2 separate regions of the Homo sapiens genome follow, and region 1 is reported to be linked to region 2. The links are microRNA targets in miRTarBase. Many come from high-throughput screens and were not tested one by one. Region 2 holds a microRNA gene; the other region holds the end of a gene's coding sequence.

The links. The annotated mature microRNA hsa-miR-4683 reads UGGAGAUCCAGUGCUCGCCCGAU and lies in region 2 at 1,697-1,719, opposite strand. An mRNA with a match to its seed (bases 2 to 7 or 8) in the 3' UTR can be bound and repressed. Matches are read on the target gene's strand: a 7mer-m8 pairs with bases 2 to 8, a 7mer-A1 pairs with bases 2 to 7 and ends in A, and an 8mer does both.
Region 1: the mRNA of DR1 is a reported target of hsa-miR-4683. The part of its 3' UTR that is shown has no 7-base or 8-base seed match.

What each region holds. Positions count from the first base shown.
Region 1 is chr1:93,360,069-93,364,325 of GRCh38, reverse strand. It overlaps DR1 (down-regulator of transcription 1), which reads right to left. Exons shown (of 3, transcript NM_001938.3): 3 at 1-3,833. The coding sequence ends at 3,687. Among named protein-coding and RNA genes, the nearest start is that of DR1, 16 kb to the right of the region's middle.
Region 2 is chr10:35,639,485-35,644,019 of GRCh38, forward strand. MIR4683 (microRNA 4683) reads right to left here and starts at 1,768; the gene lies at 1,688-1,768. It overlaps FZD8 (frizzled class receptor 8), which reads right to left and starts at 2,812. Exons shown (of 1, transcript NM_031866.3): 1 at 1-2,812. The coding sequence starts at 1,945. LOC124902528 (zinc finger protein 469-like) reads right to left here and starts at 3,362. Exons shown (of 2, transcript XM_047426128.1): 1 at 3,146-3,362; 2 at 2,244-2,929. The coding sequence starts at 3,362. The coding sequence ends at 2,244. It overlaps LOC105376494 (a long non-coding RNA gene), which reads left to right and starts at 3,831. Exons shown (of 2, transcript XR_930820.3): 1 at 3,831-4,535. RefSeq lists enhancers at 1-181, 1,001-1,160 and silencers at 437-731, 1,271-1,360.

The DNA.
Region 1 (4,257 bases), not on the chromosome of region 2:
ATTACTTAAAATTTGCATTTTTTCTAAGGAGCAATAACCTAATGAGTATGTAATACTAATGTGTCAGTTAATAAGGGCAATTACTTTTGCTCTTATTTTCCTGTTATATGAAATTAACAACATACCTGCTGCAATATAACTCATTTGGTACAATTTAGGTGTTTCGAGAAATTCAACCCACTAAGATCATTAGCGTAATTCATTTTTATGCTACACATTAAAATGGTGCCTTCTTACAGTCACTTTGGAAAACTGTTTGACAGTAAATACTAAAACTGAAAATATACACACCCTACAACCTGGCAATTCCATTCTTAGGTTTATACTCAATGGAAATGTATACACTCACCAAAAGACATGTATAAGAATGTTCTACACAGTACTATTCATAATAGCTCAGAATTGAAAAATTCTCAAAAGACTATTAATGGGAGAATGAATAACTTTTGGATGTAATGAAAAATGGATAAACAAACGGAAGACTATACAGCAATGAGAATGAATGAACTACAAATACATGCAACAATAAGAATGGATCTCACTTTGGCAGGTTGAATAACGGCCTCCAAAGATAGCCAGCGTATGAATCCCTGGAACCTGTGAATGTCACTTATATGGCAAAAGAGATTCTGCAGATGTGATTAAATTAAGGATCTTGAGATAGGGGGATTATCCCTGCTTTATGCAGGTGAGCCCTAAACTTAGAGGCAGGGAAAGATCTGACTACAGAAGAGAAGATGATATAATGACAAAAGCAAGCTTTGATCATAGAGAGGAAGGGGTCACAAGCCCATAAATACAGGCCGTCACTGGAAGCCAAAAAAGGGAAGAAAACATTCTCCCTCACAACCTCAATAAAGAGCCAACCCTGCTGATACTTTGATTTAGGCCTAATGAAACTGATTTTTGGACTTCTGATCTCCAGGACTATAAAAGAATAAATCTGTGTTGTTTTAAGTCACTAAGTTTGTGGTAGTTTGTTACAGTGGCAACAAGAAACTAAAATATTCACAAAAATGATGAATGAAAAAAAGTGTATTATGTATGATTACATTTACATAAAATAAAAAACAGGCAAAACTAATCTATGATTTTAGAAGTCAGGATAGTAACTTTCAGCAAGAAAGAAGACAGTGTTAAGATGGGGAAAGAGGAGGGCTTCTGGGGTACACATAATGCTCTGTGTTTTGATCTGAAGACTAGTATGTGAGTTTGTTTAATTTGTGAAAACCTTTATTTGTGTACTGTTTTGTGTGTGTGTGGTATATGCAGTTTTAAAAACTGATGCCTTTTAAACACTTACTAATCTGATAATCTGCCGAAAAAGAATATATAACATATATTCAAGGGGATGGAAAAATACTTACTGAACAATAATTTTATTTCTCAAGAACGCTGAAGATTTTGTTTCTCTCTTCAAAAGATTTAAAAAATTTTAACTGGCAAAACATAATAGTGACTCTTAAATGCTAAAAAAAAAAAAAAAAAAAAAAAAAAAAGAAAAAACCTAAAAATAAAATATTGCATAAGTAAGCTTTGTTATGCCTCGATCTTAGGACTGTAAATTATAAAAATACAAGTAAAACCACATTTTTTGAAATAACAGTAAACAAAAACAAAAGGCAGGTACTACATACCAAATGACCAAAATGTCTTTTGGGCCTAAGATTCTTGAAAATAGTAAAAATGGTAATAATAGAAATCTCTCTATAGAACATTAAATATAAAAACCATTTATAAAACACATCACAATTTTATTGCTTGAAGAATACAGCATATGAAATCACAAGAATGTCAAAATGAAAAGTCACTAGGCTTCAAACGTATAATACATTATCAGATGCAGTAAAATATTAACCTGAACTCTGCATCAGAAAAAAAAAAAAAGGTGTGGAAAATATCTAAGTTGTTTACTTAAGAAACAGATATACTTAAAATAGAAAGTATAAGGATGTTACAGTACAAATTAGAAAAGCCAACACGTATTAACTTATCGTTCTAGACTAGACTACCTTTGGTACTTAAACTTTTTAAAAAACAATTTCTTCTATCTCATCCAAATGCACTTCATGGGTATGACATCCATGAAGTAACTTCAACTTAAAACATTCAGCAAAATTAACCTTTTCACTTCATGGGGGAAGTATATTTAATAAATGTATAACAATATTTCCCTTTTACTAAAACTGCAAAATATGATCATTAAGAAACCTAACAGTTATAAAACTTTACTTACTTAGCTCTCCAATTAAAATTGGAATCCTGGGAGCCACAATCTATTTTTGGGCTTGGTGAATACATAAGTTTAAAAGATTTGGCAACTGACATAGGAATTTAATTACTTAATACTATCTTAAGTGACTTTTCCTTTCTGTTTCCAAAATATAGACATTATGCCATTTCTTCAACATCCTGGATTCCTATAAACACTACCATACTGTATTTATTAGAACCAAATTAAAGCTTCTCTAACAAGCAGGTAGAAACTATTTATGTTCCATATACGGCTGATAAGTTATAACACAACTTATGTTTCATATAGGGCTGATCAGTTAATTCATATAGGGCTGATCAGTTGTAACATAACTTCTTAAGCAAAACTAATCTTTTTTTTAAAGCTATCACTCAATTATGGAGACAATAATGTCATCTCAAAAGGTAATGTTGGACTCTAGGCCATCTAGTTGGGAAAATGTAAAAGTAATTCTAAAAACAATAAGTAAACTATAACTACAAGTTAAATTAAAAATCCCTCTCTCATAGCAAGCATGCTCATTAACTTTCATTTCTTTCCCCCAGCAAAGGTTTGAATATTCATAAACCTCAGTTAAACCAAGAGAACCAATGTAATTGTTTCAAAAGTACCACCTATATATTTGAATAATATGAGTATGGATGGACTAGGTAAGTAATACTATCAACAATTACTGAATTGGAGTGAAAGAGTAAAAATCATGACAGACTTCCAAACTGGGCAGTCTTTGAAATGTCATAGTGGAGCTCAAAATGAATTATGCTGTAATAAAACTATAGTTTTTACCTCTACACAAAACAGAAACAAAATAAAAAAACATAACCACCAAATTTATACAAATACTATTAAACATACTCCTTCCTAGTTTTTGAATGTCTTGAAGTTTTTCTAAACAAGTATATTGATCTGAGCATATATATTTATTGCCTATATATGTACTCATTTTAAAAGACAAATTCAGATACTACAGAACTGAACTCTTTCACCAACCCAATCCAATGTCTACTGATTCACACAGCACCCCCCCCTTAATAATTTAAAATTCACAAGTTTTAGTTTAGTTAAAAGGGCAGAGGAAATGCAAATGCAGATTTAGAGCTTTGTAGAAATTTCACTGTATTTTTATAAACTTGAAGTTATCTGTAACACTGTTTATTGATCAAACGAAGGACTCGCTGCTATCTAAAATTTCATAAACACCATTAAAAATTCAAAATTGATATTATACTGAACCTTAAATTTTCAATAGTTCAAAGAGACAGTTTTTACATGTATAGCACACAATAGATGAAACTTAATAGCAGACATCCCTAGAATACCAATGACAAGTCCACCAAGATGCATACAAAATTACAGATAAGCATTTCTTTCACTGTTTTTGTTGTGCAGGGAAAAACATTTATAGAAGAAATAGAAACTCAGCTGGTGAATTTCAGATATCATCATCATCTTCTTCATCCTGAGAAGATCCCGCCTGATTAGATGCACTGGCTGAGGCAGCAGCAAGCTGGGCTTGTTGGGCAGCTTGCTGCATTTGAAGCCATTCCTGTTGGGCCAATTCTGCTTGTTGCTGTCTAGCCTAAACACCCAAAACATAAAAAAAAATAACAATTTTTTACAAACCCACAATATATACACTTTGGTTAAATGTAGATTAGGCCAATTTCAGACAGTTTATTATCATACTTGGATACTGTCCAAGTACTATGTAATTGTCACACATCTGGAGAACATAAACTCTATAGGTAAATATAATTAGAGATTGCTTTTTTCTAACTACACAGGTCTAAGAAATTTCTCAAACTTGGATCTCTTATAAATGGCCCTGTTTTATTTCACGTAATTTATGACCTTTGATTCAACTGAAGAAGTTGAAAAAGTGGAACCAATATTGTGAAAAACCCACAATATTCCCTCTGGCTCTTTCCCTCTTCTTTTCCTTTCATTTCACTTGACTCTTCTGTACCCTCATATTACAACTTTGATACAAACATTTTTCAATC
Region 2 (4,535 bases):
CGCCGCCGCCCCCCGGCCCGCCGCCACCCCCCGCGGCCGTGGCGCCCGCGCCCCCGCCCACCGCGGCGCCCTTGCTGGCCCAGCAGCAGCGGGTGCACAGGGAGCGCCAGGACTCCAGCGTCTTGCCGGACCAGACCCACACGCCCGAGGTGATGCCCACCACTAGGCACATGAAGTACTTGAGCATGAAGACGGCGTAGTCGGGCCTGCGTGCCTGGTCGGGCTGCAGGTCCCGCAGGCACGGGCAGTTGTGCGTGGCCTCCCAGCGCGGGCGGTTGTGCTGCTCGTAGAAGAGGCAGGCGACCACCACCGCGGCGGGCACGGTGTAGAGCACGGTGAACAGGCCCAGGCGGATCATCAGCTTCTCCAGCTTGTGCGTCTTGGTGGGGCCGTCCTGTTGCTTGATGACCGAGCGGATGCGGAAGAGGGACACGAAGCCGGCCAGCAGGAACATGGTGCCGATGAAGAGGTAGATGACCAGCGGCGCCAGCACGAAGCCGCGCAGGTTGTCCAGGCTCTGGTTGCCCACGTAGCAGATGCCCGCCACCGGGTCGCCGTCCACCGAGCTGAGCGCCAGCACCGCGATGGACTTGACGCTGGGCACAAGCCACGCGGCCAGGTGGAAGTACTGCGAGTAGCCGGCGATGGCTTCGTTGCCCCACTTCATACCGGCCGCCAGGAACCATGTGAGCGACAAGATCACCCACCAGATGGAGCTGGCCATGCCGAAGAAGTAGACCAGCAAGAAGACCACGGTGCACAGCGCGGGGCCGGTGGTCTCGTAGCGCACGTGCTGCTCCACCGCGCCCAGCTCCTCGTACTCGCCGCGCCCGCCCGGGCCGCCCGCGCCCGCGCCCGCCGCGCCCGCGCCCGCCGCCGCGCCGCCCGCGCCCCCAGCGCCCCCCGCGCCCGGCGCGCCACCGCTGCACGCCACCTTCTCGTGGCCCGCCACCAGGCGCACTAGGTAGCCCACCGACACGAAGAGGTAGCAGGCCGAGAGGAAGATAATGGGCCGCTCCGGGTACTTGAAGCGCTCCATGTCGATAAGGAAGGTGGAGACGGTGGCGAAGGTGGACACGAAGCAGAGCACCGACCACAGGCCGATCCAGAAGACGGTGAAGGCGCGCTCGTCCTGGCTGAAAAAGGGGTTGTGGCAGGGCAGCGCGCAGTTAGCGATCTGGCCTGTCTTGACGCGGTTGTAGAGCGGGTGGCGCTCGCTGGACACGCTCACCATAGGCGCGCGGCACTGGCACCCGGGCTCGCAGGGAGCCGCGCCGCCGCCAGGGGGCCGCGCCTTCCCGCCACCGCCGCCGCCGCGAGCTGGGGGCGCCGCCGCGTCCCCGCCGCCACCGCCCCTGCCGCCGCCGCGGTGCGGGGGCCTGGCCCCCGGCGGGCGGCCGTGGCCGCTGCCCGAAGGCGGCTGCTCGCCGGGCGGCGGCGGCGGCAGGCGGCGCGGCGGGCTGGGCGCGGCGGTGGTTAGGTCGGTGCGGTTGTAGTCCATGCACAGCGTGTCAGGGTTGCCTTGCTCGGGCAGCCGGTCGCAGCGCATGCGGTCGGGCCAGGCGAAGCCGTACTGGCGCATGAGCGGCGCGCAGCCGGCCTTGGCGCGCTCGCACACCGAGCGGCAGGGCGGCAGCGGCTTCTTGTAGTCCTCTAGGCAGATGGGCGTGTACATGCTGCACAGGAAGAACTTGAGATCGGGCGAGCACTGGATCTCCACCAGCGGCCAGAACTGGTGCACCTCCAGGCCCGCCTCGTCTTGCGTGTCGTGGTTGAACTGATTGGGCATGTAGGTGTAGTTGTAGCCGATGCCCTTACACAGCGGCACGGTGATCTCTTGGCATGCCAGCTCCTTGGCCGAGGCGGCCGCAGCGCCGCTAGAGCGCTGCAGCAGCGCCAAGGCGGCCAGCAGCGAGGTCACTTCCAACAGGTAACCCCACTCCATGCTGTGCGCCTCGGCCCGGTGCCCTCGCCCTCCAGGCGGCGCGCAGAGGGGTGCCGGGGGGGGGGCCCACGAGAGAGCCGCAGACGGGTACAGCGGGTGATCTGGGGTCTCCCTTATGCTTCGCCCGGGAGGGGGGTCTGCCGATAATCTAACCCCTTCTAGGGGCGCGTCCGCAGCGGCGCGGCCCGCAGCCTGGGCAGGGCCCTTCCGCACTCCTTTCCGCCGCTCCGGGGGTTTGAAGGCGGCTGCAGGCGCGCGCCACAGTCCGTAGGTCCGCTCTGCTGGCCCCGGGTCGCGCTCAGCCCTCGCGGCGCAGAGCGGCCGGGCCTCGGCTCATCGTCCCGCGCTCGCTCGCCTCCTCTCCGCGCGCCCGACCACTTCTCCCCGCCGCGCCGGGCGGCGGTGACTCCGCCGGACAGAGAGGGCGGAGGCGCCGCAAGTTTCCTCTGGGGCCGCGGTGCGCAGTCAAGATGGCTGGGCCGGGCCGCTTGCCGCGCCGGGTCAGCCCTGGCGGCCACCACTCGGCCCCCGGGGGCTCATGCCCGCCCCCAAGGCCAAGCCGCCGCCGCCGCCGCCGGAGTTGGGGACCCGCCTCGGCCCAGGCCGCCGCCCTCTTTCTCCGGCGTCCGTCCTTCGTCCGTCCGCCGCCGGGACAGACGGACCCCCGCCGCCTGGAAAAGTCAGCGCCGCGCTCCGGCCGCAGTCGGGCGAGGTGCACACAGTCTCCTTCCTGCTGGACACCCAGGAGCAAATCCAGACCGGAAGGCGGAGCGGACACCTGAGTGGCGCGGCCCGCGCCCAGCCGCCGCCTCCTCCTCGGCGGGAGCAGCGCCCTTAGCCCAACTTCCCGGCTCCAGCCCCGCTCGCGCCGCGCTGCCGGCTCATGAATATTTATACAGCGCGGACTCGGTCTCCGCCCCCAGCCCCGCGAGCCAATCGCCGGGCGGTAGGGCGGAGTCCACGCGCTCCCAGGGCTCAGCCTTCCTTAAGGCAGTCCCCGAGTGTCCGCACTGCTGTGCGCGCTCTCTGCGGATGGAGAGTTTTGGTAACCTTGGGATTGACCGCAGAGACAGAGTGTTGGCCATGGCTGTCCCCATGGCGCTGAGTGCGTCGGAGGTCTTGGTCCCCTTACCCCGAGTCTGCCCTTGGGGACAGGGACGGGGTTTGGTGCAGCGCGCGCCTCCCCGGCGCGTTTCAAACCAGCCAAGCCCCTGCTGCCACCCTCCGCAAATGTGGGTGATCTGCAGGCGGCTGGGGTCTCGTGCTCCTCGGGGCGGCAGGAAGGTCTCGCAGCAGGCGAGCGCCGGGGAGGCCTGCCGGGGCTCGGCGCTGCAGAAGACCCGGGAAAGGGTGTCCTCCTTGGGGTTCTCAGAACGATGGTTTCTGAGACTTGGAGATGTGGGGGGTGTGGAGTCATTCTAAACTGGGGCTGGACCCGGGACGGCCCGGGTGAGATGCCCCGGAGCCCAGCCTTGGGCGCGCGAGGGGCGCGGGGGACAAATGCCCGCCAGAGACTCTCCTCCCGCCTCCGCTGCGTGACCTGGGGGAGCCTCAGTTTCCCCACCTAGAGAGTTGGGTGATCATAGCACAGATCTCCAAGGGGGCTTTGATAATTAGGTGAGATAAAATATAGGAAGCCCCGAGCCGCCGTGCTTTCTTAGGAAAAATCATTCAATTTCTTTCTAAAATTCAAAACAAACCTCGAAACTTATAAATAGGACAGGCTGGAAACTCTGGGGCTGGATTCCCTGTCTTCCCTTCGTTCTTTCAGGACGTCTATTCATCCATCCCAAGTTCACAGGCTTTTGCCAGAGCCTCCTTTTCTCTGGTGGGAGGCGGCGCTGCGCTCTGGCGTGGACTCCGCGACACGTATCTGCTCTCTGCACGAGGCCGGAGCCGGACCCGGGCTGCTTTTAGCAGCCGCTTGGGCCACCGCCAGCGAACGCTGCCCCCGCCGGCTCCGCCGCCACCTTAAGACGGGCCGGGAGGGGGGCTGCGGGCGGCCCGGGCCGGCGGCCTGGCAGGTTCATTTACGCTTGTTAGGGCGTCCCAGGGGGCTGTCTTTCTCCTAGAATGGAGTGTTTATTTTTTAATTGATGTGCTGTTTCATTTAGCGCTTGTATGGAACTCATGCTGGGGCAGTAATTACTGTAATCTCGGGAACAAGCATTTCAGTTAGCCAGGAGGGTGGCAGAATATGTTTCTCTCTCTCTTTCTCTCCCTCCCTCCCGCCTCCTCCCCATCTCCGTCCCCCTCTCTCCCTCTTCCTCCCTGCCTCTCTTCTGTCTTCCCTCTCTCTCTCTCCCCACCTCCTTTCCTTCTCTCTCTCCCCCACCACTTTCTCTCCCCCCTCCTCCTCTTCCCCTCCTCCCTCTCCTTCCTTCCCTCCCTTTTCTCTCCGCTCTCTCACTCTCTTCTTGTTTCAAGATTTTTGCTATTTGCCAGGTTTCATACCGGAACAAGTACAGTTGGAGAACAAAAGTTGCAGAGGGCGTGGGGACAGAGCAAAAGAATTAAAAGTACATTTGAGGCCAGTTCCGGTTTTCGGGGCGCTGCTGGTGGTGGTGGTAGCTCGTGGTTGTCCGTTCAG